4 separate regions of the Homo sapiens genome follow, and all the other regions are linked to region 1. Evidence: fine-mapped expression QTL. A gene starts in region 1. Each other region holds a variant in brackets. All regions are shown on one strand. Distances are between the middles of the regions. Region 1 holds the start of CTBS (chitobiase). Region 2 overlaps LINC01461 (long intergenic non-protein coding RNA 1461). Region 3 has its middle 26 kb from the start of RPF1. Region 4 overlaps LINC01461 (long intergenic non-protein coding RNA 1461).

Region 1 (7,497 bases):
CACTGCACTCTAGCCTGGGTGACAGAGACCCTGTCTGGAAAAAAAAAGTGATAACACAAAACTTGCACATGAATGTTTATAGCAGCTTTATTCATAATTTTCAAAACTTGAAAGCAACCAAGATGTCCTTCAGTAGGTGAATGGATATTGACATCAGGGGTTTTTCTGGACAAATCATACACCCAGATCACCCTACAGTGAAATTCAAAAAAGTGATAACACAAAATCCATTCAGTAGGTGAATAGATACATCAGTGGTTTTCTGGACAAATCATACACCCAGATCACCCTACAGTGAAATTCAAAGTTAAAAGCACCAGCTATCTACTTGGAGCTTCCTCTCTTTGTACTTTTTAATTTTTACTTTTAATCATGGACAGCAACCAAGAAAATCCAATAATGTAGAAGGAAGGGACCCAAACAACAGACAAAGGAATATGGAGGAAGCAGATGCTGCAGGATTGGATTAACTGTAGTACGTCCCAACAATGAAGTATTATTCAGTGCTAAAAAGAAATGAGCAATCAAGCCATGAAGGGACATGGAGGAACCATAAATGCGTATTACTAAGTGAAGGAAGCCAATCTGAAAAGCTATATACTGTAAGATTCCAACTATGTGACATTCTGGAAAAGGCAAAACTATGGAGACAGTGTAAAAATCTGTGGATGCCAGTGGTTAGCAAGGAGAGAGGAATGAATAGGTAGAGCACAGATAATTTTGAGGGCAGTGAAACTATTCTGTATGATACTATAATGCTGGATACACATCATTATACATTTGTCAAAGCCCATAGAATGTACAGCACCAATATAAAATTCAATACAAATATGTAGGAATTCCTCATTTGGTTAGTATGCAGAAAAGAGTTACCGTAACAGGCCTAAGACTGCGATCTTTAGAAAGGCCTGCTTCCTGAAGGTTGGCCTGTAGGTGGATTTGGGAGTGTTCCTGCTGTTCCCTGAGTCTCTAATGAGCTTCCATGGCAGACAGCCCTTCACACATGTTACAACGTGATGCTTGTGCTTGGCCTCCTCCTGTCTTCTTCCTGTGCACTTTTTCCCTTTGCTCTTTTGCTTCATATTCTTCTGCTGTAATAAATCTTAACTGTGAGTACAACTGAGTCCTATGAGTTCTTTTAGTGCATCACTGAACCTGGAGGTGATCTTAGGGATCCCTAACACAGGTAGATATGTGTTTTCTTCTGTGTCACAGAATACAGTCTGATTCTATGAGTCAGAAGGCTCTTTTCCTTGAAAACTTGATTCAGTGCAACCATTCATGTTAAAAACATAGTTACATTTCAGTATCATGAGGGATTGGTTCCAGGACTCCCAGATACCAAAATCCATGGATGCTCAAGTCCCTTATATAAAATGGCATAATCTATGCACATCCTCCTGTACTTCAAATAATCTCTAGATTAATTATAATAATACGATGTAATGCTATGTTGACAGTGCTCTTGCCGTATTTTTATTTGCATTTTTAAATTGCTGTATTATTTGTTATTTTTAAATACTGTTATCTGACATTGGTTAAAACCATGGATGTGGAACCTCTGGTTATGGAGGTTCAATTGTACTTTTTTTTTTTTTGAGACAGGATCTTGTTTTGTCACCCAGGCTGGAGTGCAGTGGCATGATCATAGTTCACTTCAGCCTCAACCTCCCGGCTTCAAGCAATCCTCTCATCTCAGCCTCCCGAGCAGCTGGGACTACAAGCTTTTACCACCGCACTGGCACACAGGGCTAATTTTTTGCTTTTTATTTTTTGTAGAGACAGGGTCTATGTTCCCCAGGCTGGTCTCAAACTCCTGCCCTCAAGTAATCCTCCTGCCTTGGCCTGCCAAAGTTATGCAATTGCAGGTGTGAGCCACAGTGCCTGGCCTAGCTTTTCATTCTGAAAACGCGTGTTCTTCAGTCCTGGAGCCTTGATAATTACTTATTTCTTTTCTTTTCTTTTTTTTTTTTTTTTTTGGAGACAGAGTCTCACTCTGTTGCTGAGGCTGGAGTGCAGTGGTGTGATCTCTGCAACCTCCACCTCCCAGGTTCAAGCGATTCTCCTGCCTCAGCCTTCCGAGTAGCTGGGATTACAGGTGTCTGCCACCATGCCCAGATAATTTTTGTATTTTTAGTAGAGATGGGGTTTCACAATGTTGGCCAGGCTGGTCTCAAACTCCTGAGCTCAAGTGATCTGCCCACCTCGGCCTCCCACAGTGCCGGGATTACAAGCATGAACCACTGTGCCCAGCCCAAATTACTTATTTCTTCTTATTTGTACTACGCTGCTTCTCAAGCACCTTTAAGAATTATTTATTTCATCCCCTCTGTACTGCGTTTTCCAATTTTCTTATCTTTCAGAGTTTTTGCTCTACATTCCTCAGTGTTATCTTCTACTAATAGTTTTTTCACTTCTTTCTTATTTCTATTAACTTTTAAAAATCCCCTACCCCTTTTATTGCACCCTGTTGTGGCTTCATCTTCTCTTATTTTTCTGGGGCTATTATGAGAATTTTTAAAAGTGTTCTCCCTGCAGCATCTGCTTCCTCCATATTCCTTTGTCTGTTGTTTGGGTCCCTTCTTTCTACATTATTGGATTTTTTTGGTTGCTGTCCATGATTAAAAGTAAAAATTAAAAAGTACAAAGAGAGGAAGCTCCAAGTAGATAGCTGGTGCTTTTAACTTTGAATTTCACTGTAGGGTGATCTGGGTGTATGATTTGTCCAGAAAACCCGATGTCAGTATCTTTGCTCAGCCTCTTAGGTTAATCAGATAGCGAGGGGTTTCAGTTTTCAGTAGGCATAAAGCCACTTATTCTCCGTTTTAGGTGGAATACCCACTCAGCAGAGAATTTATCCCCTTCAGGGAATTCAGCCGGGGTGGGAGCCCGTGGTGGGAAAGAGGGGCAGCTGCCCAGAGACATGAAGCTGGAAAAAGGATCTAGCGATCAGAGTCCTTGAGCAGCCTTTGACTAATCTCCCCCTTTTCCGATTTACCTCTCATACTCATACTTGTGCTCTCCAGCTTCCAACATTTTGTTGCTGTTATCTCTTTGTCCTTGTGTTTAGGTTGTTAAACTTGATTTTTAACAGGAGAGTAGGCAAAATTAGATGCTTGAATTCAAACCACGATCTTAACTAAGACCTGATATCCGTAAGTAAAAATTTTTGGTATTCCAGCTTTCTTTTGAGTAGCAAAAGAAAAACAAAGTCTTTTGGCCACTCCAACCATGTTACTCAGTAGGCCCTTCCAAAGACACCCACTTCTCCATTTTGGGGATCCCCTTGTACCTTCAGACTCCACAAGGAGTACACGACCAGCCACGACAAAACGAGATGCAGACTATTGGGAGGACTATAAACGGTAGGGGTGATACCCATTTGAGTCCACGAACGGCCCTCTCGGCGCCGCAGACACTGGCTGTCCCCCGAGACGCTCCAGCAGCCACTTAACTTCACCCACCTGTAGCGCCCGGGGACGCTCGAAGCCCGACCTCCCACGCCCGCCCCGGAGCCCCGCCCCTCCCGCCCCTCCCCGCCCTTCCCGACTCTCCCCGCCCCTTCCTGCCCCGACGCGCAGCAGGCCCCGCCCACCCAGGCGGTAGGAACCCACTCCGGCCCGCTAGACCTGCTGCTATGTCCCGGCCGCAGCTTCGACGCTGGCGCCTCGTCTCTAGCCCGCCGAGCGGCGTCCCGGGTCTAGCGCTGCTGGCGCTGCTGGCGCTGCTGGCGCTGCGGCTCGCGGCCGGGACCGACTGCCCATGCCCGGAGCCTGAGCTCTGCCGCCCGATTCGCCACCATCCAGATTTCGAGGTCAGCGCCTTCCTCTGCTCCTCTAGGTCTGGGCTTCAGGGCACGAAGAGAAGTTAGGGTAGAACGGAGCCCTAAGGAGAGGTGCCGTGGGCGCCGAAACCAGCTTTGACCACTCGATGAGGGCCTTCCTGTTTACGGATCCTTCAATTTATAGATGAGGAAGCTCGGGCTCAGAGAAGTTGAGTAACTCCTCAGGCCTCACAGCCTGTAAGTGCCTGCGTAGGCAGGCGAGAGTTCAAACCAGATCTGCCTCCTAAGGCAAGCTCCTTTCATTCCCCTGCTGTGCCTCTGCGGAAGCACTCTGGGTGTAAAAAGCAAACAAGGTAGGATAATCCATTTATGTTTCCAAGGAACGAGGATTTCGTTTGAAAGAATCTCAGCACTCCAACAGTACATTAGAATGCAGAGTATTTTGCTTACCTTTAGTTTTCTATACCTGCTAGCCCTTTCCTTTAAAGTACCTCAAAACCACCCATGAAGAGTGGTAAAAAAAATAGCTTTCAGTACATTTTCCTTCTATCTACATAACAATTTGTAAGGCTTCTGGCAACTTTAATCAAACACCTTCTGGAGCAATATTAAAACCACCTGACTGCCCACTTCGATGACTGAAAGCAGGAATTGGATGACATCAGGAAGGTCCAAAGGCTTAATTCAAAGAACGATTCTTTTGTAGAAATAGGCATGATTCCTAGTTCTTAATCTAGTACATTAATCTGAGGCAGAACACTTAGATGCCAGTAAAAAAGTATATATACATGACTTAGGAGAAGAAATAAAAATGGTGAAAGTGTTTATGGAGAACCTGCCTAGTGTGGAAACCTAACATCTTATTAAAAGAAAGACTTCAGACAAAGTAGGATAACCTTTTTTATTTGAGCAAAGAACAACTTATGAATCGGCAGTACTTAAACCAGAAGGGGTTCAGAGAGGTCTGCTTTAGTAGCATGGGCTTTTATAGGCCGAACAGGGAAGCAAAGGAAAATAATTACTTGGTTGGCTATGACTGTTTGCCTTATTTAGCTATGACTTGGTGGAAAATTACTAGTTAGAGGTTAGTTGGCAGTTTCTGATAGGTTAAGCTTAAGTTTCCTTTCACTGTTGACCTTGGGCTGGAGTTTGCTTAAGCAGGAAATCCAAGGCAGTTGGAGCTGTTTCAGCATAATGGCCTCCCAATTAAAATGTTTTATACAATCTGAGGCCCAGCGCGGTGGTAGAGGCAGTGGGGACAGTAGCTGTAAAAGTTCAACCAGACATTTCTTAATTTTCTCAATCTCTTTTTGAGATTGAGAAGCACTTTGTGAGGCCAAGGTGGGTGGATCACTTGAGGTCAGGAATTCGAGAACAGCCTGGCCAACATGGTGAAACCCCGTCTCTACTAAAAATACAAAAATTAGCTGGGCGTGGTGGCGGGCACATGTAATCCGAACTACTTGGGAGGCTGAGGCAGGAGAACCGCTTGAACCTGGGAGGCGGAGCGGGAGGCGGAAGGTTGCAGTTAGCCAAGATCACGCCACTGCACTCCAGCCTGGGCGACAGAGCAAGACTATGTCTCAAAAAAGAGAAAAAAAAAAAACCTGAAAGATTTACTGTAGTACCCAATACTTAGTGGGTTAGGCAATATCTGTGGGCACTTTGAAAACCAACTATTCAAAGAAGCAAAATTATGCTTATTTGTATCTTCATGGTAAATGGTCTTTTTCTCTACTGGCGTTTTCTATGTTTTTCAAACACAAAAACTAGACTACATGGCATTTTCCCCTTATATTTTCAATTAGTTCACCCAGCTTTTTTTTTTTTTAAGGATATCTGTTATATCACAGGCTCTTAGTATTTTTTAAACAAATAGAATCTTAATTATCAGAACTAAAATAGAAGTTTTGATAGAAATATGAGTCAGAAAACAATGGGCCACTTAATTTCACATTATGAATTTTTATTATTTCAGTAGGCAATTGCTTAGCAGAAAAAATGAGTTATGCATAATTAATTCTGAAAAGTTAAAAAAAATTAAAAAAAATTAAGAAATGCCTGGTTTAACTTTTACAGCTGCTATCCCCACTGTCTCTCCCTCATTCATTCCCCTCACAAGGACCCAGTGATCTCTTTTGTAATGCATATCCCCTGAATTAAAACTCTAATTGATTCCCACTGATCCCAAGATAAAATACAACATCTTCAGTGGTCTTGGAAGTCCTACTTAATCTTTCCACTACCGACTTTAAAGGTTTTATCCAGTTCCACATACTTGCAGGATTTCTGTGCTCTACCTACATTGACCTTTTTCAGTTCCAGAATCTCAGAATTCTCCTGAGGTGTAGCGACCTTTGGGCTTTCCCTTCCCTCAGTTGAGAATGCAATCTTTTGTCCATAGGTATATCTCTTCCATCATTCTGCTGATTTCAGCCCACTCCGAAAGTGTGTAGTCCTCAGAAAAGTTTTCGTGCACCATCTGGCTAGCAGGTCCCCTTTATATGCTGGCGTGGCCCCCTGTAACCCCTACAGTCCTTAATACCATTGTAATTAAGTAGTTAACTCCTTACTGGACCTGGTCTCTCTCATTAATCTTTATCTCCTTAGAGCCTAGCAAAATACTCTCCTTGTACCTTATTGGAAATTCAATAAATATTTGCCAAATCAATGAATTAATGCCTTGGAATAAAATAAAAATAATCAGTGAGGCTTCTGTGCTTCTTGAATTAACTGTGGGAAGAAAATATCAGAGAAACACAACATCAGGTGCCTTAGAATTTGACCTAGGTACTATTCTAAGAAGCTAGCTTCACCAAACAAACAAAAAACAGTAAATGTATTTATGGCTCCATCTGCAGTAGCCAGAAACTTGAGTATTATCAGACTTCTCTCCTTTGATTACTCATTCGATTAGTCACAAAGTCCTGTCAATTTTGCCTCCTTAGGATCTTCCAGATCTGTTCACTTAACGCCACTGCTCCACAATTTTAGTTGAGGTCACCATCATCTCTTACTTGGATTCCTCCAACAGTTTCTGTATTCTGCCTCCAGTTTTGGTGTCTCTTTAATCCTTTTCCCACTGCAGCTGAAAATATTTTTCTAAAATGCATACCTTCCCCTTTTAAAAATGCTTTTATTCTCTCCCTTTACCTCAGGATAAACAAGGTAGTACTAACTTCTCAACAGAGCTTATGAGGCCTTTCATGATTTAATCCATGCCTACTACTCTCTGGTCCTTCACTAATGCTCTCTCCCCAAATTCTAGACGTCGGCCATACTAAATATTTAGTTACGCAACCACCATGTTGTCTCTGCCTCCAGGCCTTGGCACTTGCCACTCTTCCTTCCTGGCCCATCCTTCCCCTCTTTCCCAGCCTGGCTAATTACCCCTGCCACCAATTATCTTGGGACCCCTATGTCTTATGCACTTGTACTCTCACTGCCACCATAGTGTTTGGTGTATGGTGATGTTTGATGAACGGTATTTTGGACGGTCAGCATAATATTCTTGGTTTAAATGATGGTGCTCATCTTTGTTCTGGCAGGTCTTTGTGTTTGATGTTGGACAGAAAACTTGGAAATCTTATGATTGGTCACAGATTACAACTGTGGCAACATTTGGAAAATATGACTCAGAACTTATGTGCTACGCTCATTCAAAAGGAGCCAGAGTAGTACTTAAAGGTATGTTGTTTCCAGATCTATGTGTG
Region 2 (7,497 bases), 36 kb before region 1:
CAAGAAGCTAGCCAACCCCACTATCTTTGAATTATTCACTCTTGCCATGAAGATTTATTACCATAGCCACTTGGCCTTCCAGCGTTTTGATTTCCATGGATACTTTTTCTCCCAGGTGACTACAAGTGACAATGTATTTATTTTGAGATGGATTTTCACTCTTCTTGCCCAGGCTGGAGTGCAATGGTGCGATCTTGGCTCACTGCAACTTCTGGCTCCTGGGTTCGAGAGATTCTCCTGCCTCAGCCTCCTGAGTAGCTGGGATTACAGGCATCTGCAACCACTCCTGGCTAATTTTTGTATTTTTAGTAGAGACGGGGTTTCAGCATGTTGGCCAGGCTGGTCTCAAATTCCTGACCTCAGGTGATCCACCCTCCTCGGCCTCCCAAAGTGCTGGGATTACAGGCATGAACCACCATGCCTGGCCTACAAGTGATAATTTAAATAACTGTTCTGCCACTGCATACCACAGACTGGTAGGCCTTCCAAAGTAGATCTGTTTGGCAGAATCACATCCAGAACCATAGCTTCAAGGAATTCTGGAAACGTGGCTTTATTTCTAGATCTGTAGAACAGGCAGAACACTGGGAACAGATGTTGAGTGAGTCGATCCAGAGTGTCTGGTAAACATGTCTCAATCCAGCCTCATGAGATAAGTCATTCTTTGCCAGACTTGCCAAGATGGTAAGGCTTCCTTTAAGTCATTTCTGCATTTCCTTCTGCCCTGAATCTTATCTTCCTCCCTCCCTCCTTTCTCTGCTTTGTGAGCTTATGCTACTCTTTCAATATCCAAATCCAACATCATCCTTAGCAAAGCAAATCCATGCTGGTTGCTGCTGGCTCTGAGTAGCACTTTGAACAATCTTTGGTTAACATTCTTAGAGGAATCATATTTATTGATTACAGATCTCTTTTTCCTGATAAAATGTGCCCTCCTTGAGAACAGGAATATAAGCAGCTGTCATTGCATCTGACCCTTTCTGCATTTCTATTTGTATTCTCAGTCTGGCAAGGTGGAGTTGCTGAGGCAATGTTTGTCGAACTCGTGAATATTGATAATGGCTCCAAAGCTGCCTCCTCTCTTAGACCAGAGGGTTAAGAGTATGTAGACTCCGGCTATGTGGTAGCTCATGCCTCTAATCTCACTGAAGGAGCCTCATTGTCTGGGGTAAATACCAGGGTCCTTGGTCTCACAGTCAAGGAAATTGAGGTCACAGACACACACACAGAGTGAGATTGGAGCAGGAGTTTAATAGGCAAAAGGAAAGAACAGCTCTCTGTCACAGAGAGGGGTCCAGAGCAGGTTGTCAAGTTTTAGTAAAAATGTCAGGGTTGGCCAGGTACGGTGGCTCACACCTGTAATCTTAGCACTTTGGGAGGCTGAGGCGGGCAGATCACGAGGTCAAGAGATCGAGACCATCCTGGCCAACATGGTGAAACCCTGTCTCTACTAAAAATACAAAAATTAGCTGGGTGTGGTGGTGCGTACCTGTAGTCCCAGCTACTCGGAAGGCTGAGGCAGGAGAATTGCTTGAACCTGGGAGGCGGAGGTTGCAGTGAGCCAAGATCATGCCACTGCACTCCAGCCTGGCGACAGAGCAACTCTCTCTTAAAAAAAAAAAAGAAAAAAAAGAGGGAGTGTCTTATCTTCCTAAGGCCTGAAGATTTAGTTGGGACCAGGTGTCCTATGTGCATAGAGCAGAGTTTTCTATCAGTTCTTACCTCATTTCCTTGATCACATAGGCAGACTCAGTCCTTGCTGCTTTGTGCTGCTTTGTTTTGCTTATCTGGGAGGGAGAGTTTCTGTGTCTGTTCCCAGACATCTTCCTGCAGCTGCAGGCATCTCCCCACAATCCGCTTTTAGTTTCTCTATCTTAGTGTGCTTAAAGGGAAAGGAATGTGCTTATTAAGGCCCACGGTTTTTACTGGGGTCCATTGTAGGAGTGTGAAGTTTGGTGATTACCCAGGGGACTCCCCCTGTCCTTCTGTGCCCGAGTTGTTTGTTTTTACAGCCTGATCTTTCAAGCTGTTCTTTGTTAGAAGAGAAGTGATTTCTTTGAACTGCATGAGGTTAGAAAGAGAGCTATTTCTGAGCTGCTTTTTGTTAGAAGAAAAGTTTCTGCTGGGGACTCGCTTTACCCTAACTGTCTACCTAAATAAATTCTGTCTGTCTTGTATAACATATTTCCCCCTCAGGAATGGAATCCCTAACTGCTGTTAGGGGGAATTGGGCAACAACTTCTTCTGGCTACTTCCCGCTGGAGAGGGCGTGGTACGGGAACAGCATCTAGGGCTCCTCCTGGGGTCGATCTAAGGGTCCCTGGTAGAAGGGTGGTTTCCTTTTTGGCTCCATTTGCAGCACCATCTGAAGCTTGATGGTTTCTAGGTGAGAAGAGAAACTTTACAAGGAGGTTTAGAATATAGGGTCCAAATATATATAAGACTACCATTATTAGTGAGGCACTATAGGCCATAACCATGACAACAGAGTTTGTTTGATATCTGTGAGCCATTTAGATGGGTTGTGCTGTTGTAACTGGGTGTATGGGGCTTGGCTTTGTTTAGCTCCCTTGGTCTTACTGTCCCCGCCAGAAAAGGAAACCTTGGGGTTATAGGTTACCTGGCAGGATTTGCAGCATAAGTGCCCAGAACTAGCACATTGTTCCAGATTTTTATATTACCCATTCCTTTCTGTCTCCTTTGAGCCACAGCTGGAGATTGATGATTGGTTTACAGGAATAAGCATGATTAGTTTAAAATGTTGGCAAGAACTTACAAACAACTAATGAGACTAGAAGTCAATGACAGATTGTATTAGTCCATTTTCACGCTGCTGATAAAGACATACCTGAGACTGGGCAATTTACAAAAGAAGGAGGTTTAATGGACTTACAGTTCCACTTGGATAGGAAGGCCTCACAATCATGGTGGAAGGCAAAAGGCATGTCTTACATGGTGGTGGCAAGAGAGAAATGAGAGCTAAGCAAAACAGGTTTCCCTTTATCAAACCATCAGATCTCATGAGACTTATCTACCATGAGAACAGTATGGGTGAAACTGCCCCCATGATTCAATTATCTCCCACTGGGTCCTTCCCACAATTCTGGGAGTACAATTCAAGATGAGATTTGGGTGGGGACATAGAGCCAAACTATATCACAGATGTACAGTAAGTGTGGAACATAATTTCTCTCTCCAGTTCTCATTTTTATGAAAAACAACTTATGATAGGACTGAGCTGGTTGCAGAATAAACTTTAGTCCTATACTTGGCCTGATTATCTGCAAAAAGTACAGCAAGAATAATTACCTCTGTGTATTTTGATTGGTTTTGATAGAACTCTGTTCCACAAGGAATCTTGGATAGGACTTTTTGAAGCCAAGCCCAGCCATGAGTTTGTACCCTCAAATACCTGTGAGTTGGATAAACTTCTTTCTTCTTGAGGTTCCAGGAGCATGGGGTTTCCGGGCCTGTTAGAAAGTGACATTCTTTACGCACCACAGGTCAGGAACACTGTACAGAGACTGTGTAGACAAGGTATGCAGCCAGTTTTCCCAAAGGGCTTTCATTGGCTCTGCAAGTCAAAGCCTTGAAGTCAAAGCCTTGGTAAAACAATCAGTTTTTCCAATTGTGTTTTGTTGCAAAAGAAAATGGATTCTTGTTGCACTGATGCAAATAACTATATAGTTGTAATTCAAGAATACTTATAACTAGTTTCCAAATTCTAGAAGAACTAGGCAGAGAGAAACAAACATGCTCCAAACATTGTTTACAGGAGTATAGTTTACTTAGTTCTTAAAGGCTTTTAAGAAAATTTCCTTGACTCTGAAAAACAAAATAAGGATCACCAGTGTTACAAGCATAAATCAAGAATATTGCTTTAGTTTTCTATTAGTTCAGCCCATTCCATTAACTCTTGATCTGCTTGTTATTCATAAACATTTCAGCTTTGTATGAGTCCTATACATTTTTTAATCAAAAACCTGCATTTAAGAGCACCTATGTAAGTTCCACAGCTGATTAGAAACTATTTTTTTTAAGAAAAAGATTCAAACA[A/G]GACAACAATTGTTTGTAAATGACAAAATGTCCAGGGTGGTTACAGTCAAGAACATGATTGACAAATTTGGTTGTTTCTGTGGCTTACAATAACCTAACATAACAACCTTAATTGTGATTAATAGCGCGTATTATTCAGACACTAGTACCTTAGACATTCCATACAGTTTTGGAACATATGTTAATATTATTCCCTAAAATATAACCTGAAGAGTATTAGACATCATTTTGGCAATTCCATGTACCTAAACAAGTTAAATAATCCTATTTACCTCTCTTCTGGATGTTCTAGGAGCCCTGTGCAGAACAAAAAGCTAGGGGCTAGGAAAGACAACCTTGAAACTAAAGTTTGATTTTGGGAAGCCTGTTAAATATGTTCAAAATTTAAAACACTTGATATTAGATTACTGTAAGTTTTTTGTTTTGCCAAAATTATGAGTCAAAAATTTGAAAAAGCAAAAACCATTCATCAGCCCTTTCTATTACATGAAAATCCTATTCAAGAGAGAATGTTAAATTTCACCCTTGCATTTGTTTGCTATTAATGTTAACCCTGATTTTTAATGAAACTTTATAGACAATCCTATTCAATCTTAACCAGTTTGACCATGAGGTGAGATTTACACAAACCTTTTATGACCCTCTACAAATTTTGCTAAAGAGTAGATCAGCATTTTAAGAAAACCCTGTGCTTGCATTTTAATCCTTAATTTATAAAACTATATAATACCCCTTTGAAATTAGTTAATATGTTCATACACAGAGTTTCCTTTGCAAGATTAGTTTTTACAATCTTTTTACAATTTGCTTAAACCTTCTGCTTTATTTTATTTAAGACAATCCTTTATGGCTAGGCAAAATGTACATTTTCATGCCTTCTTATCTTTAATTAAAAACAGCTTTTACTGTTTTTTTACACACCTTGCATGCAAATCCATGTTCACTAGTCTCATTACATGTCATAATGGTAACACTTAGCAATTTTTAACTTTGATGTAAAACCTGGTAGGTTGTTTTAATTATGTGCTAGATGCAGATAAAGTTTGACTGCTTTCAGCATCATTAGGGGCATGGTTACTTCCATATGTTCCCAGGCCTTACCAATTGTGAAGCAGGCAAGTAGACAATATTTAAAGGCTAAAAAAGCAGTTACAACCTTAAAACATTTATCAAACCTAGTATCTGACCTGCATAATTTAGATCACATTTTTACATCCTGAAGACATTTGTATTTTACCAATAGTTTCTAAGACTGTTTTTATTTTTGAAGATTAAAGTTGTGTGAACTGAAAGGTACCACAGCTTTTACTTTTTCTTTAAAAATACTTTATTTAAGTGCTTATTTTTCTTAGTCCAATTAATTGGAGCTCTTTTCAAATAGACATTACACACATAACACATATATAACCACACAGACAAACAGAAAAAGATCCAGTGGTTCTAAAATTTTTCATTTGCTAATTTCCCAATTGGATTATTAGCCTCCTGGTGAGACCCTTTAAGAACAGGGCTAGGAATACAGTTTCCAGGGCCTAATAAACAAGCAAAGCTGGAAGACAAAGATAGATTTTGAGAACTACTTATTCACCTTTAATTCCAGGTGTTCCATGAGGAAAACAGATTTTTCCCAAAATGGGATTTGTGGCACCTTTTCTGTTTTCCCAAGGAGTCCCAGGCTACCAGAAGTCATTCTAGGGTCTTTCATGCATGCACCAAGAGTGGTAAGTCACAGTTTTCTCAGTTGACTGAGAAAAAAAGACCTTTTCCAGGAAAACAAGATCTATAAAGAGAAAAACATAAAGGCCTTTAAAATATACCCATAGGTTTGATATCCACTTTGAATTAAGCTGAGTGCTCTTTAGGAAAATCCTTTTTCACAAATAAAACTTTACAGTGAAGATAAACAGTGATTCTTACCATTTTTCCCCCAGTTTGCACCACTACTTGTTCACAATCATGTTTAGGTTCTCCAGTTTTCTCTGGGAGAAAGTGGCTGGGCTCAGGAAGTGGCAGGTTTTCAACTGGACTGCAGATCCCTTTAGCAGCAAAGCTTGATATTTGAGGAGGCAATTGTCTGTTAGCCAGACTTTCCTTAGAGGACAGTAGTCTTGTTATATTGCGTGGAGCTAAACAGTTAAGTTATTCCCCATTGTTAACCCATTGGCTGTAGAGCTGGACCTCCAGTCTTAGTCAAAACTCCCAGGGCTATTTTCTTCCTTTCCAATATACATAAAGATTAAATACCTTCCCTATGGGAAGGCTGAGAACTGGTGCTTTAAGCAAGGCTTGCTTTAGCTGGTTTAAGGCTTTTGTGTTTTAGGTTCCCAAGTTAGGGAGCTGCTTGAGTTTCTTTTAAGAGTTGGTATAAAGGATGAGCTATTTCACCATACCCTGGTGCCCACATTTTGCAAAATTCAGTAATGCCCACATTTTGCAAAATTCAGTAATGCCCAATAATTTTCTTAACTCTTAAAGGAAACGGGGTTAATCCTTTCCTCACCTGGTACTCTGGTTCCTTCTGTGCTGTGTCTGTCCCACAGACCTTGGCCGATGGGTGAAATGAGTACTCAGACACAGGTATGCAGTGTAAGAGCAGCTAGGTGACTGCCTGGCTCCAGTGGCCAGACAGCAGTCCCGAGAAGCTGGAGCTGTTTGCTTTTATTCAGTGCAGGCACAATGCCGAAAACCTGGAGCCAACACAACCTGCAGGTAATTAACATTTATTGTTCCCCTTTCAGGGAATGTTGCATGGGGATGATCCAAGGTCAGTTCCTGGTCAACATAAGTAAACAAACCGGTTTAAGATAAATTCCCCCACACTCCCTTGTACCTACTCCTTGCCCTCTGCCTTAGGGTTATAGAACAGCTGTCTTCAGCCATTCTTCCCTGGGGCTCTGCAGAAACTTCCGACCTTTCAGAAGGTTTGTGTCCTTTCCCTATAGTTTTTTCACCACCCTGACCGATCCCCCACACTTCTGATAAGATTAGGCCTAGGTACTTTACTGAAGTTTGACAGAGCTGAGCTTTAGATTTTGAGACCCTATACTCCCTTTTAGCTAAGAAATTGAGAAGAGTCTTAGTGCCTTCCTGAGACATCCTTGAATGGGGCACAGAGGAGAGTGTCATTTACATACTGCAAAGTTTCAACTTGAGAGTGAGAAAAACTAGAAAGATTTTTAGACATGGCCTGTTTCAGCAACTTCCTTTTGATATCAGGGGCTGCCTGAGTGATGAACCTGTTTTTTGTTGAATTGGAAGACAGGGAGGTGTGTTTTATTAAAGCTTCTCTCAGCCTTTCCAAAAAGGTAGGGAGATTTTTATCTGGTTTCTGATTCAATAAGGACAGTTTAGAGTAATTAAGAGGTTTGGTCCTAGTCCTTCTTAGGCCCTCTGATATGCACATTAAAAAGTATTTCCTTTTCCATTCATCTATGGGGTCAC
Region 3 (7,497 bases), 120 kb after region 1:
ACAAAGCAGGCAGCCTTTCTCTCTCTGGGTCTTGGTGCTGAACCTGTGTGCTGGCAAGAAATGGGCTCACATTTGCTTTGCTCTCAGAACCTGTAGACCTTCTTCACTCTCCTTCTCTTCTCCCTTAGCCACCAACCTGAAACAGGAAGAATCTCTACTTGTGAAAGTCCTTTTAATTTTATATTTCTGATCATGACACTTTTTTATGTTTAGTATAGAAACATCTCCTTCACAAAAACACCCATGTTATCCCAAGACTTTGGAAGAAGAATGAAAAAGACTTGCAGCCCTCTTCTGCTTCCCATCCTGCCACAAAGCTACTCAGAGGCCATAAACACATAATTATCTATGTGCTTGAATGTTGGGGGATGGGAGGTTCAGGTTGAAGATAGAACAAAAATGAAAAGGCACAAGGAAAGAAAATAAAGCAAGTTAACAATTCACAATACCTCAGTAGCTTAGTAATAAAAATAATGGTGCCTTTCAACATATCTTTATTATCATTCTTTATAATCATTTTGTTTTTATGTTTTGTCTTATATTTTACCCACAGATGGAGAGTATAAATTTACTACTTCATATATTGGGTTGCTTTCCTGGGTACATAGTAGCTCTTTTAGTCACTGTAATATCAGCAATGATGATGCTTGTATCTGAAGATGAACAATAGTCATGCATTTTCCAAATCATCTGAAAGAGCTATTGGAAGCCACACTTCCCATCACACAGCCTGTCCATCTTCAACACTGGCTTTTCAGTCACTGGCTAGGGGTTATTTAGTCAACTTTTTCATGCACACCTTCGACTTCTGGCATGCAAAGCTTTCTGCATGCTTTTATGTAATGTGAATCCAGATGGTGGATTGTATGTGGGTGCAATAAATGACTGAATGTTTTCACATGTTTCTTGGCTGGAATTTATAATGGTGGAGTTTCTTTCCTAAGCCTCCACGACTGCCACATTCTGCAATAATTTTCACCAGATTACATAGATGTTCTGATAGAATCAGGGACCAAGGAAGCTAAAATGGTTCTTCCTCTAATCCTGATCACATCTCTTTCCCTCTCCTTAGCTAATTTATTTCTCTGCTACAGAAACTTGGAACTTTGCTGTACAGAGAAGACTGAGGTAAACAGGGAGAATAAACGCGCTGAAAGGAAGGGAAAGCCAGTAAAGGAAGTTGGAGAGATAATTGAAAATTTGAAAGAGAAGGTGGAATCAATACCCTTAAAATATTTTTAAGTATTCAAAAGCAAACAATTAGAATTAGTGAACGACAACAATAAAATACTAAAAAAGGGGCACTTATGCCTCCTCTCCTCATACACCTGCACCCCCGTTCCCCCATCCATTTCCCCTTCCCAAGCCATACTGATACATGATGTTTCAGCTGCATGTTGTGTTAGAGGCCATTTCACAAAAGTCACAATGGTCTTGAATGTTATTTTAATATGCATCTTAGAGCTATTGCTCATTTTTACAGTATTGGGATTCCTCTAATAAACAGAGAACTGCTTTGTCATTACTAAGCAGTGAAGTTATCCCTCTTACAGGGGACTGCTTGAGAAGATAACCAAAGACGGGAATCGAGATTTGGACCTACCTCTTACCACTATCCTCATGATGGAGGTAACTTATATTCTGGACCCTATAGGACCACTTTGTATTCTTGTTCATGTTTGTAGTTTACTTGCTGTGATTTCTTTTGTGAGATGAGGTCTCACTCTGTCACCCAGGTTGGAGTGGAGTGGTTTGATAATGGCTTACTGCAGCCTTGACCCCTGGGCTCAAGCAATCCTTCTGCCTCAGCCTCCTCCTGAGTAGATGGGACTACAGGCACATGCCACCATGCCTGGCTAAATTTTTTTTTTCTTTAAAGGGCTGGGTTTCCCAGCGTTACCCAGGCTGGTCTCAAACTCCTGGGTTCAAGTCGATCCTCTCACCTTGGCCTCCCAATGTTCTGGGATTACAGGTGCAAGCTACCGCTCCCAGCCTATGATTTCTTTTTACCTGTATATCCTTGGTAGTATTTGAAAACTTGTGTTTGACTTCATCTGTTTTCTTTGGATATGAATGTAGCTAGTAGTAATATAAATGGTAGTTTGCTTGAGTGGTGGCAAAGAAAGCCTATTTCATTCCTTTTATTATAGGTTTGCCTTCTAAGTGGAAGCTACCTTGAGATGAATTTAGCATTATTTTTGCTAGCAAATGCTTGTGTCATTCTGATATTTCTTTTCTCTCTCTCTCTTTTTTTGATTTCCTGATAAAATAATAAATCCCTTTATTCTTTCATCCAGTCGGCTTAGAAGGGGAATGTGAAAGATGACTTCATCCATTTTTTTCTTTGGAGATTTGCTTTACTAATTACCCAGGCTTTGATGTCCACATTTCCACATTTGTTACCATTCCTTGGTGCTATAGTGGATTTCTCTCATAATCTCTTATCCTTTTAACTTTACTTCCCAGAGGCAAAGGATTTGCTCTGTACCTGACTGCATTATGAAACACCTATTTGCCTGACCCACCCCTCCTCAGGCTGCACCACCCAGGACACTATGAAAATGAAGTTGCAACTGACTGGAAGTCAGCAGTACTACACCGGGTCCAGATGAACGTAAACCAACATGGAACCCCAAGGCCATGCTCTAGAGGGTCAGCTCTGAACCTCCTTGAAGTAAGTGTTCAGCCAGGTTATTAATTCGTTTAGTGTTGGTTTTTGAAATGCTACTTTATTGGGTCTTTAAAAATTTGATGCTTGGCATAGAGGACAAGGTCTCTAAATGTAGGACTTCACTGAATGAAGGTGATCACTACCAGGCTGTCTCTCTTTTTTCTGTTTATAAATGCCTTTTTCTCTTTTGTTGGCCTTTTTTTTTTTTTTTTTTTTTTTTTTTGACAGAGTCTCGCCCTGTCACCCAGGCTGGAGTGCAATGGTGTGATCTTGGCTCACTGCAACCTCCGCTTCCCGGGTTCAAACAATTCTCCTGCCTCAGCCTCCTGAGTAGCTGGGATTACAGGTGCCCACCACCACGCCCAGCTAATTTTTGTATCTTTAGTAGAGACAGGATTTCACCATGTTAGCCAGGCTGGTCTGAAACTCCTGACCTTGTGATCTGCCCGCCTTGGCCTCCCAAAGTGCTGGGATTACAGGCGTGAGCCACTGTGACCGGCCTTGTTGATATTTTATACTCTGTGCCTTGGAAGAAATACTTCCTAGGAATTTATTTTATTTTACAGCAGGCTGGCAAAAATGAAAAAGAGACTTGACAGGAAATGGAGGTAAAAATTCAAGGATTAATTAAATTCATACATTTTGTCTTAGATTTTATATGGCTCACAGACAATCTGTATAATTTGTCTGATTCTCACAGATTATCCCAAATGTTATTTATTATTCATTCAACAAGCATTTATTTATTTATTTATTTATTTTTGAGATGGAGTTTTGCTCTTGTTACCCAGGCTGGAGTACAGTGGAGCGATCTCAGCTCACCGCAACCTCTACCTCCCAGGTTCAAGCGATTCTCCTGCCTCAGCCTCCCAAGTAGCTGGGATTAAAGGCGCATGCCACCAAGCCCAGCTAATTTTTTATTTTTAGTAGAGACAGGATTTCTCCATGTTGGTCAGGCTGGTCTCGAACTCCCAACCTCAGGTGGTCTGCCCGCCTCGGCCTCTCAAAGTGCTGGGATTACAGGCGTGAGCCACGGCGCCTGGGCTAACAAGCATTTATGAAATTGAGCACTTTGAAAATAAAGAGGGAGAGATTTGAACTAGAAAGTGAGCTCCATGAGCACAGGATTTTTGTTTATTTTGTTCACTGCTCTATTCCTAGCACTTAGAACAGTGCCTGGCATGTAAGTGATACTCAATAAATATTTGCTGATATATAAATAAATGAATGAA[C/T]ACTACTGTGATTTAAAAATATTCATTTTAGAATAAGAGGTGTATTATGTACATCAGATGTAGGATTGTGAATATAATAAAGCCTATCAATTAGAAAAGGGCCCTAGAAAGACTTGACATGCAAGTGTCAGAGGAGATATGCTCCTTTGTGTTCAGAGTGGGCAGTTATTTGATGGTCCAGATGGTTTTACCTCAAAGGAAGAATGTGGTTAAATTTTTGTTGTTGTTGTCATTGTTGTTGTTTTTGGAGACAGAGTTTTGCTCTTGTTGCCCAGGCTGGAGTGCAATGGCGCGATCTCCACTCACCACAACCTCCGCCTCCCGGGTTCAAGCAATTCTTTTGCCTTAGCATCCCGAGTAGCTGGGATTACAGGCATGTGCCACCATGCCCGGCTACTTTTGTATTTTAGTAGACATGGAGTTTCTCCATGTTGGTCAGGCTGGTCTTGAACTCCCAACCTCAGGTGATTTGCCCGCCTTGGCCTCCCAAAGTGCTGGAATTACAGGCATGAGCCACCGTGCCTGGCCGAATGTGGTTAAATTTATCTTTTTCATTTTTACTCCTATTTAGAAGGTAAAAAGACTCTTATTTATAAAAACAATGAATTAGTTCTATTTATTAGTCTTTCTGTGTTCATTTAATGCCGGTGTCTAAGGAACCTAAGGCATTGACCAGGGGGTCTTATTAAACGTCACAGCTCAGCAAGGAAGTTGTGAGCAGAGCCAGCTCTTGGGGTAGGCAGTGTGTACTTCTGCCTATGGCAGAAGCTCCTACGGCAGTGCCATGCCAACTCTCACTATAGTTTCTGTTTTTGAATTTTGTGTTGGCTGTTCCTCTATTTCTGTATGTTTCTTAGAACCAGAAGTAAAGAGATGGGGAATTAGAGATGGAGATCTGCAATGCTGCTGAAGGGCTTGGCTGGCACCCTCTCTCACCCCCCTTCTTTCCTCTCTACCTAGTTCTGAGCATCTTTTTCCTCCTTTGATCCTCCAGTGGCAAAGTCAAAGTGGGCACCAAATGCAGACTTGGCCAAGTGAGCTACCCAGGTTGGGGGGGCACCATCACCTCTTTTTTGTTGTCTCAGGATTCACAACTTCAGAATAACCTTTTGGAAGTTAGGCTGTGTCTATGGCAGTAAGAACAGAAGTTCTGCCTTAGGCTTTAGCCATTATACTGTGCTATAAAGAGCATGTAACATAGCCTAATACTTTATGTTGCAGTTGAAGTGTTACGGGATTTTATTTTATAAGAACTTAAATCCAACACATAAATCTCTCTCAGATCAGCCAGGCTTTGTGTTTTTTCCTTTTGTAACTCATTCTGAGTTGATCTAAGACAAACATTCCTAAACTAGCTGGGTAGAAAGGACACTGTGGTGTAGCGGGAAAAGCCCAAGAAGGCAAATCAGGGCTCAGTTCTAGATTGGACTTGGTTGCTAACTAGCTTTTTATCCACAGTGAGTCAAGATTCTGGGCCTCACTTTCTTGGTTTATAAACTAAGAGAATTGCATGAAATGAACTATAGCACTGCTTTCAGCTCTCATCTATTTAGGCTCAAGACCTTTTGCCCCTTCTTTCTACCATTTTGAATAATGGAATATAAAGTGTTGGAAAGAATCCTAGCATTGGCTGAGTAAATGTTAGTTAAATCTGAGTTAAATTGAATATAGTCAACCCACTCAAGTTAATAGAGGAGGGAATTACATGAGTACAGAAAAATCAAGTTACTTGCTTAGGTCACACAACTAATTAATGGCAGAAACCTGACGTTCTAATCACAAATCATGAGTTTTTTTTCTCAGAAAAAACTTTGGTGATCACGGTGGGTGTAGAGGAAGCAGTAGTTTTCATAAAGGTGTTAAATTCTTATTTCTGCTAAGTTGGTTAGCATTGCCTATTATGACAATCCATGAATATCTTGTGCCAAAATGCTGCTGGCTGTTGTGCAGAGACACGTGTTGGTTGCTTTAGAATTAAACACAGACCAGAAACTCCTGGAGAAAAAAGGCCACCCCTTTTTTAATCACTCTCTTTAATTTTTCCTTCTGACTTAACTTTTAAAATTGGGCTGATTGTTCAAATAGTAGAAGAGGTTAGAAAAATCTGTTCAGGAAGACAAGAACCAGGAGTTCTAGTCCAGTCTCTACATGGGGTTTGGAGAATCTGGGTGGCCGAGTGGCATAAACTAACATGAAATTGGTAGCTCTCTTCTCCATACACTATTTCCCTGCTTAGAAATGAGTGTTGTCTAAGTATGAATTCATCTTCCTCTCCGAGGCTGGGCTCTTTCTGACCTCCCTGTTTCTTTGAACAGTGTCACTTCTTCAAGTTACTCACCCCTCAAACCTTAGTAATCTCTGACTCCTCCCCTTTCTCTGATACACTGAAACAGTTGCTAAACTTCATGGATTCCTCCTTCACAATGTGTCCTGCATTGGTTTTACTTCTTCATTCCTATTATTGTTCACATATGTCACTTAAAGTCATATCTTGTGAGTAGTTAAGAATGTGAGTTTGGAATCAGGTAGAACTGGGTTTGAGTCCTAGCTCTGCCACTTACTACCTGGTGTCATTGCTTAATCTCTTTGTTCCTTAATTACTTTATCTTTCAAATGGAAATAATAATTGTGTTGATCTCAAAGAATTGTGAGAATTAAAGAACATATGTAAAATACTTAGTACAGTGCCTAACATATAAGTGTTCTAGTTTTTTTTTTTTTTTTTTTGAGATGGAGTCTTGCTCTGTCGCTCAGGCTGGATTGCAGTGGCACCATCTGGGTTCACTGCACCCTCTGCCTCCTGGGTTCAAGCAGTTCTACTCCTCAGCTTCCCACATAGCTGGGATTACAAGCTCCCGCCACCATGCCTGGCTAACTTTTGTATTTTTAGTAGAGATGGGGTTTCACCATGTTGGCCAGGCTGGTCTCAAACTCCTGACCTCAAGAGATCCGCCTGCCTCGGCCTCCCAAAGTGCTGGGATTACACGCATGGGCCACTGCACCCAGCCCTGGATTCTAGTTTCTAGACTAGGCTTGACTAGGGGGAGGATGAGGGGTGAGAGACAGGAGGGCAGGAGAAGGTCAGAGAGAGACTTTGCTCTGAGGCTGCTTCTTAGGCCTTCACTTTGGGGTATTTTTTTTGAACCCCAACATTAGGCAAGAGCATATGGTTAAAGCTATCTTATTTGTGTATAATAGAAAAAAATTATATCTAACTTCAATGAACTTTGAAGTATCTTGAGTTTTCAATTAAAAAGATTCTGCTTTTAATAACAAAGCATGCTCGGGTTACCCTGATATCTGAAAAGTTTCCTGCAATCTACTTTTCATCAAATTCAAATATATGTCAACATTGATTTGATATAGAGGGGAGAATTGAAAAAGAAATGATGTGTAACAGTTGGAAGAGGGATCTTTGGATATACTTATAAGAGTCTAGGGAGAGCTCTGCACACACTCCTGTTCTCCAGAAACTAATTTGTGAAAATGCAACTCATTGGGTCACCCAGCCTCCTGGATTAGGCTTTAGGAGTACACCAAGAGAAATATCATCTATCTTCAAAAAAGATATAATTCTATTAGCAATCAGTTTTT
Region 4 (7,497 bases), 23 kb before region 1:
TGCTCTTCCTGTTGGGCATAGTTTTAAGTCAAACCTTCAACACACAGAGTTCCCCGAGTCACACTACCCACCTACTCCATTTGTGTGCTATTATTGGCATTTTTTTAACCAAAATGTTCTCAATGAGTGGTCATTGTCTGCCCCATTTCCTCACCCCTGGTCCCTGCCCCTTCAGCCTTGTTCTGTCCCCACCCCTATAATGAAATAGCAACTTGTTTTTCTTTTTTGCCTTAATTTCACCACCTCTACTACCACCAAAATGTCTTAAGAAAACCCCATATGAAGGGTTCCAGTAAAAATAGTAAGTGTTGAAAATCCCAGAACAGAATTGAATGCTTAGGCCTCTAAGCTTTTATTAACCTTCTATTTCAAAACAGCTTACAGAAGATTCACATGTGATGAGAATATATTATTGTTCCTAACTGAACTAACATAGTCTAATTTGTCTAAATTGAGGCTTAAGTAAAGTACAATTCCTAGAGCTGTATGTTTTAACTTTCCTCGTCTGTTTGTCTGCTCCTTAGAACAGGATTTATCTACCTGTGTATCAAGTACTATAATGGAGCATACTATAATGAATTGTCCATTGTTTATGTCTACATTTAAAATTTGTTTAGAGACCTGAGATGAAAATGGGGCTTGTCAAGCCCTGGGAGCATAAACAAATCTTATTCTTAAGAAATTCCTCACTCAACCAATCATTCTAAACAAATATAGAACATCCATTGACTATAGTTCAAGCTCTTGGATATATAACAGGAATTGGCCTAATTCTTGAACAGGCAGTTTTCTGAGTATTGATAATAGCCAGAGGGCCCACACTTCTGTTTTGTACTTTCACCTTTCTTCTGGACCATTTTTCCCTTTCCTTCCTTCCTTCCTTCCTTTTTTTTTGACAGGGTCTTACTCTGTTGCCCAGTGGTACCATCATGGCTCACTGCAGCCTTGATCTCCCGGGCTCAAGTGAATTTCTCACCTCACTCTTGAGCAGCTGAGACTACAGGTGTGTGCTACTATGCCTGGCTAATTTTTCTTTTTTGGGGTGTTTGTTTGTAGAGACGAGGTTTTGCCATGTTGCCCATGCTGGTCTTGAACTCCTGGCCTCAGGTGATCCACCTTGGTCTCCCAAAGTGCTAGTATAACGGGTACACCTAGCCTCGACCATTTCTAATGCTGATATAAGTCTTTAGTCATATACAGTTTTTTCACAAATGCCTTTCAACAGGAAGGGAGCAGCTGTAATATCTCCAAAATAAATTTCTGACTCAGGCAGGATGCTTTTTATAACATCTATGAGTCAGAAGAACTAAGTTATAGAAACCAGACAGGGGCCCATTTCTTATCAATAATTTTGCTTGTTTAAATGTTTTTCCTCCACTTTCTCCCTGCTGTGACTGCAAAATCTATAGCTTTGTCAATTGTTTAAATTCTTCCCTAGAAGCGAAACTAATGATTTTCCATGTCTAATCAGTGAGAACAGTGCAAATTCTTCTTCCATCATGATCAGAATCTTCTAGGGTTATGGACTCTTTTAAACACAGATCTGAGTCACACATCAGAAAGCCTGTGGTCTTAAAACACTCATGCTCTCCTGAATTTTTCAGAGTTAACACTGGAGGAGACTCGCCCCCAAGTTTGCAGGGAGAGCTAAGTCTATATAGCATTCCTAAAGGGAGCCCAGAGAGGTCCTGTAAGGTGGAACTGGTGGGAGGGCAGGGAAAGGAGAGAAAGACGCTCTCTCTGCCCACACTCCTCCACACAACTCCATCAATCATCCCAAATCAAAAGAGAAAATTAGCCATATTATTTTACACTTGAGTCAATTCCGTGCAATCCAAGTGTTTCTTTTACCAGTTTAGTTGCTCTCTCAAATGCAAAATACTTTGGAAGTCATTTAAAAACTGCCAGAATAGTTCTTCCTGCACACTGGTTTCTGCCAACTCAATTTGAAATTGGCTCTCTCAGTTCTCTTTTTCTCATATGCAAGCAACTAGCCAGATCTCTACCTGCAGATGATAAAATGCTACCCCATGCAACTCCAGGTTTGCTTCTAAACCAGGTCAGGAGGCTGAGATCAAAACAATGAGGACCACTGGAGCCCCTGGGGAGTCTCCAAAAGGGTAATTAGGCTTCTGCCCAGGTCTGGTGGATTTCCCAAAGGCTTGTATTTTTTCAGAAATGGAGTGGAGGGGAATTGGGGAGAAATTACAGTAAGTGAAGGCCTTAAATGGCCTGGAAAATCTTCAAGGTGGTATGACATCATGGAAACCTCATCCAGCTCTTTGAAAGTGATCCCAACGTTTAGCACATTACAGGACTTAACACAAGGCAGATACTTGCTACATATTTATAGGATGAAAGAATAAACAGACTGCTAGAGTAAACTAAAAAACAATTCTCAAACACTAAGGATGTTTTCTCATATTTTCTTTCGAACGCTTTTGTTTGAAAAATGTTAGCATTTCCCATAATCTTGCTTCTAGATTTGATCTCCTCAAATTAATAAATATAAATGTTTCTGGCCCCCAAACCGCTATGATGGCAGCCCACCTCTCTGACCCTGTGAAATTTAAACATACCACGGAAGGCTGGAAATTTTATGCTTCTGAAAAGATGTTGAAAACCATCATCAACATATTCTGTAGTATCCTCCACATGCTGCATGTGACCATCAAGAAAACATAACTAGTCTGTGAACTGCGGGAGGTGCTCCAGGTTCGCTGACACTCCCCTCAGCTGCGGGGTAGGATGGCCAGATGACAGAGGGATTGTTCTCTCTCTTGTTTGCAGTTGGCAGTTTTGGAGTTTGCCCACCAGATATGCCATCCAAGAAGACCAAAAGTACAGCAGGATGATTGTGAACAAGACCAGGGACCTCAGCCCTTGCAAAAAAAGGTTGAAGACTATGTACATGAACGACATTCTAGGCTATCCTCAGGTGGGTTCCAAGACTAGGGCTCCCAGCTTCTTCCCTGGATCAACACCCAATGGGCGTGGCACTCAATACCTGCTCTTTAATCAGTGCTGTACTGATTTGATCAGTACTTTTCAAATTATGTCCTACGTTGTCTGAGATGTTCTACTCAGGAGCCCTGGTGAGGGATGATGTGTGAGAAAAATTCAAGTATCTCCTCTTCTAAATTGAGAAGTCCTAGCCTTTGTCTTAAAATTGATTTTGTGTGTTAGGCTTTCACTTTTTTATTAGATGGTAAATGCTCCATTCTTCAAACAACAATGATAGCTCAGGAGGCCAAGAATATGTGTTCTGATTTGTTCCTGAATGTCACTGCGTCTAACATGAGACTCTGCTTCCACAGGCACTTAACACATACTTATGAGACTGCTTTCTCTCAACTTCATTTCCACATGGAAACATTTGGAACCGAGTTTCCATTCCTGTGACTTTCATTGTGGGAAGACAGAAAAGAACCCAGCCCAGATTTTTCATTAAGCATGTTTAACACAATAATAGTGAGATGAAACTGAGGGTGAGAGGTTTTAAACCTGTGATGTTGTGCTCTTTTATGTAGGAGAAACAAAGTTCTGTTTTGCCTGGCATCATGGGAGAACTGTGATTGCCTGTTTGATATTGTGTAGATAAGCTAAGCTTGCACAAACTATTGAGATGATTGCCTGGCATGGGACATAAAGGAGTCATTAATTTCATTCCTAAGTGACAGGAAAGCAATAGCCATGCCTCTGGTTGGTTTGTACTTACACAGAGAGAAGTCTACAAAAGGGAGAGCTTCACTTATATACAAATGAACTCTGAAGAGCCACTGAAGTGCCCTGATCACTGAAGTTGTAACCTAGCAAGTGACCCAGCCTTCACTGAGCTGAATGAGGTTGCCATTTCCCAATTAAAGTAGGACCCGGGATGGTAGAACATCAAGGATCAGGAGATTTTCATTTTCAGCTCTACCGCTATTAGCTGTGTGACTATGAAAAAGTCATTTTGCCTGTTTAGGCTTCAGTTGTATCGTTTGTAAAATGGGAGTCATAATAACTCCATCAAAAG[G/A]TTATTGCAAGAAATAAATATCCCAAAATGACTACCTGACATCACAAATGATCAATTTAAGGTTGTCATTTCATTGGAAAAACGTGGTCAAATCGGTTGATTTGTGTCTGTGGCCCAAAGAAATTGTTACTAAAGTATTCATTTTTCCTCATTATTATGATTGGAAAGTGTCCTCTCCAAGATTCATGTTGGAACTTAATCTCCAAAGCAATCCTATTAAGAGGTGGGGTCTTTAGGAGGTGATCCGGTCATGAGGACTGCTCCCTCATGGATGGGATTAAAGCCCTTAAAGAATAGCCTTCACACATGGTTTGAACCCTCTTTGCCCTTCAGCCTTCTGCCATGTGAGGATGTGGCACAAAGGTGCCATTTGGGAGCAGAAACTGGACCCTCACCAGACACCAGACCTGCCAGAGTTTAAGAGCATTAGAGGCCACGGTAAGGACTCTGTATTTAATTTGGAATGTGATGGAAAGTGGTAAGATTTTTTTTTCATTTTTCGTTTCTGTTTTTGTTATTTGTTTCAATTTTTTGAGATGAGGTCTCTCTATGTTGCCCAGGCTGGACTAGAACTCCAAGGTTCAAATGAGTCTCCTGCCTCAGACTCCTCAGTAGCTGAGACTACAGGGGTGCACAACCACACCCACCTGGAAAGTGGTAAGATTTGATTTATGATTTTGAAAGATACTTCTGGCTGCTTTGAGGGAATAAGAGGTTCAAATAGAAGGCTATTACAGCCAGCCCAAAGAGAGGTGATGGTTATTTGGACTAAAGTAGTACAGGAAGGAGGACCTTGCATGGTTTTTCATCATAAAGTTCAATGCTGTAATCAGGGACTGTTAATATGAAACCATTTTTCTCATGCTCAACCATAACATGGGGCTCTATAATGAAAAAGAAAAATTCAAGTAGAAAAATTGGATTCTAATATTCCCTATCATGTCTCTATTATTTTTAAATATTAAATATAATTTTATATGGAAAATTATGTTTCACATAACACAAGTTCGTGGCCATGGAGGCTGCTGTTGAGGTGGCAGCTGCTGCTGCTGTGTCAGAGCTCGAGGTGTCACTGACCTGCTGCCGCTTTTGCTACTGTCTTTGCTTTTGAAACCTTTCATTTTTTGAATCCTAAAAAACCAAAATATTTTTCAAGAATATAATAGGACACAAAATCTTTTCACAGAATTTACAGAAGTGCCACTAACAGTCTGGAAATGTTTCTCTGACACAGTTTGTGTGTATGAGTGTGGGTGTTTTATTTTTAAAGCTTTGAGAGTATAATCTGTTATTTTGAAGGAAGACGCACTCCTCAAAAATAATTGGGGTTTACTTGATGTAAGATCAAATCTTTAGGAAAGGTTTTTTGTTGCCTTTTTTTTAAACTTTAAGTTCAGGGCTACATGTGCAGGATGTGCAGGTTTATTACATAGGTAAACGTGTGCCATGGCGGTTTGCTGCACACATCATCCCATCACCTAGGTATCAAGCCGAGCATTCATTAACTATTCTTTCTGATATTCTCCCTTTTATCTTCTCCACCCTCCGACAGGCCCCAGTGTGTGTTGTTTCCCACAATGTGTCCTTGTGTTCTCATCATTCAGCTCTTACTTATAAGTGAGAACATGTGGTATTTGGCTTTCTGTCCCCGCATTAGTTTGCTGAGGATAATGGTTTTCAGCTCTATCCAAGTCCCTGCAAAGGACATAATCTCATTTTTTATGGCTGCATAGTATTCCATTGTGTATATGTACCATATTTTCTTTATCTAGTCTATCATTGATGGGCATTTAGGTTGATTCCATTTCTTTGCTGTTGTGAATACTGCTGCAATTAACATATGCATGCATGTGTCTTTATAATAGAATGATTTATATTCCTTTGGGTATATACCCAGTAATGGGATTGCTGGGTCAAATGGTATTTCTGCCTCTAGGTCTCTGAAGAATTGCCACACTGTCTTCCACAATGGTTGAACTAATTTACACTCCCACCAACAGTGTAAAAGCGTTCCTTTTTTTTCCACAACCTTGCCAGCATCTGTTGTTTTTTGACTTTTTAATAATAGCCATTCTGACTGGTATCTCATTGTGGTTTGGATTTGCATTTCCCCAATGATCAGTGATGTTGAGCTTCTTTTCATATGTTTGTTGGGCACATATATGTCTTCTTTTGAGAAGCATCTGTTCATGTCCTTTGCCCACTTTTTAATTTTTTTGTTGTTGTTGTTAATTTATTTAAGTTCCTTGTATACCTTTGTCAGATGGATAAATTGCAAAAATTTTCTCCCATTCTGTAGGTTGTCTGTTCACTCTGATGATAGTTTCTTTTGCTGTGCAGAAGCTCTTTAGTTTAACTGGATCTCGTTTGTTGATTTTTGCTTTTGTTGCAATTGCTTGTGGAGTCTTCATGATGAAATCTTTGCCCATGCCTATGTCCTGAATGGTATTGCCTAGATTTTGTTCTAGGGTTGTTCTAAGGTTTTTATAGTTTGGAGTTTTACATTTAAGTCTTTAATCCATCTTGAGTTGATTTTTGTGTATGGTGTAAAGAAGAGGTCCAGTTTCAATTTTCTGCATATGGCTACCCCGTTCTTCCAGCACCATTTATTAAATAGGGAATCCTTTCCCCATTGCTTGTTTTTGTCAAGTTTGTTGAAAATTAGATGGCTATAGGTGTGTAACCTTATTTCTGGATTCTTTATTCTGTTCCACTGGTCTATATGTCTGTTCTTGTACCAGTGCCATGTTGTTTTGGCTACTGTAGCCTTGGTAGTATAGTTTGAAGTTGGGTACTATGATGCCTCCAGCTGTGTTCTTTTTGCTTAGGATTGTCTTGGCTATTCGGGCTTTTTTTTGGTTCCATATAAATTTTTAAATAGTTGTTTCTAATTCTGTGAAGAATGTCAATGGTAGTTTTATTAAAGCATTGAATATATAAATTGCTTTGGGCAGTATATGGGCATTTTCACAATATTGATTTTTCCTATCCATGAGCATGGTATGTTTTTCCATTTGTTTGTATCATCTCTGATTTCTTTGAGCAGTGGTTTGTAGTTCTCCTTGAAGGGGTCCTTTACTTCCCTTGTTAGCTGTATTCCTAGGTATTTTATTCTTTTTGTGGCAATTGTGAATGGGAGTTCATTCATGATTTGGTTCTCCACTTGCCTGTTGTTTGCATACAGGAATGCTAGCAATTTTTGCACATTGATTTTGCATCCTGAGACTTTGCTGAAGTTGCTTATCAGCTTAAGAAGTTTTGGGGCTGAGAAAATGGGGATTTCTAGATATAGGATCATTTCATTTGTAAACAAAGATAGTTTGGCTTCCTCTCTCCTTATTTGAATAGCCTTTCTTTCTTTCTTTCTCTTGCCTGATTGCCCTGGCCAGAATTTCCAGTACTATGTTGAATAAGAGTGGTGAGAGAGGTCATCCTTGTCTTGTGTCAGTTTTCAAGGAGAATACTTCTAGCTTTTGCCC

The links. PIP is the estimated chance that this variant, and not a neighbour inherited with it, causes the effect. A credible set is the group of variants that fine-mapping cannot tell apart.
Region 2: its variant is the best candidate, but not a certain one, in a credible set for the expression of CTBS in whole blood (TOPMed, PIP 0.71).
Region 3: its variant is the best candidate, but not a certain one, in a credible set for the expression of CTBS in whole blood (INTERVAL, PIP 0.75).
Region 4: its variant is the best candidate, but not a certain one, in a credible set for the expression of CTBS in whole blood (TOPMed, PIP 0.81).

The regions. Positions count from the first base shown.
Region 1 is chr1:84,570,556-84,578,052 of GRCh38, reverse strand. It overlaps CTBS (chitobiase), which reads left to right and starts at 3,613. Exons shown (of 7, transcript NM_004388.3): 1 at 3,613-3,814; 2 at 7,333-7,471. The coding sequence starts at 3,638. It overlaps LOC105378819 (a long non-coding RNA gene), which reads right to left and starts at 37. Exons shown (of 2, transcript XR_947544.4): 1 at 1-37. RefSeq lists a silencer at 3,481-3,600 and enhancers at 3,761-4,050, 4,161-4,260, 4,974-5,023.
Region 2 is chr1:84,606,364-84,613,860 of GRCh38, reverse strand. All of the region lies in intron 2 of LINC01461 (long intergenic non-protein coding RNA 1461), which reads left to right. Among named protein-coding and RNA genes, the nearest start is that of LINC01461, 11 kb to the left of the region's middle. The variant A/G (reference allele first, on the strand shown) is at 4,057.
Region 3 is chr1:84,449,850-84,457,346 of GRCh38, reverse strand. No RefSeq gene overlaps it. Among named protein-coding and RNA genes, the nearest start is that of RPF1, 26 kb to the left of the region's middle. The variant C/T (reference allele first, on the strand shown) is at 3,904.
Region 4 is chr1:84,593,390-84,600,886 of GRCh38, reverse strand. LINC01461 (long intergenic non-protein coding RNA 1461) reads left to right here. Exons shown (of 3, transcript NR_125761.1): 3 at 2,791-2,923. Among named protein-coding and RNA genes, the nearest start is that of CTBS, 23 kb to the right of the region's middle. The variant G/A (reference allele first, on the strand shown) is at 4,019.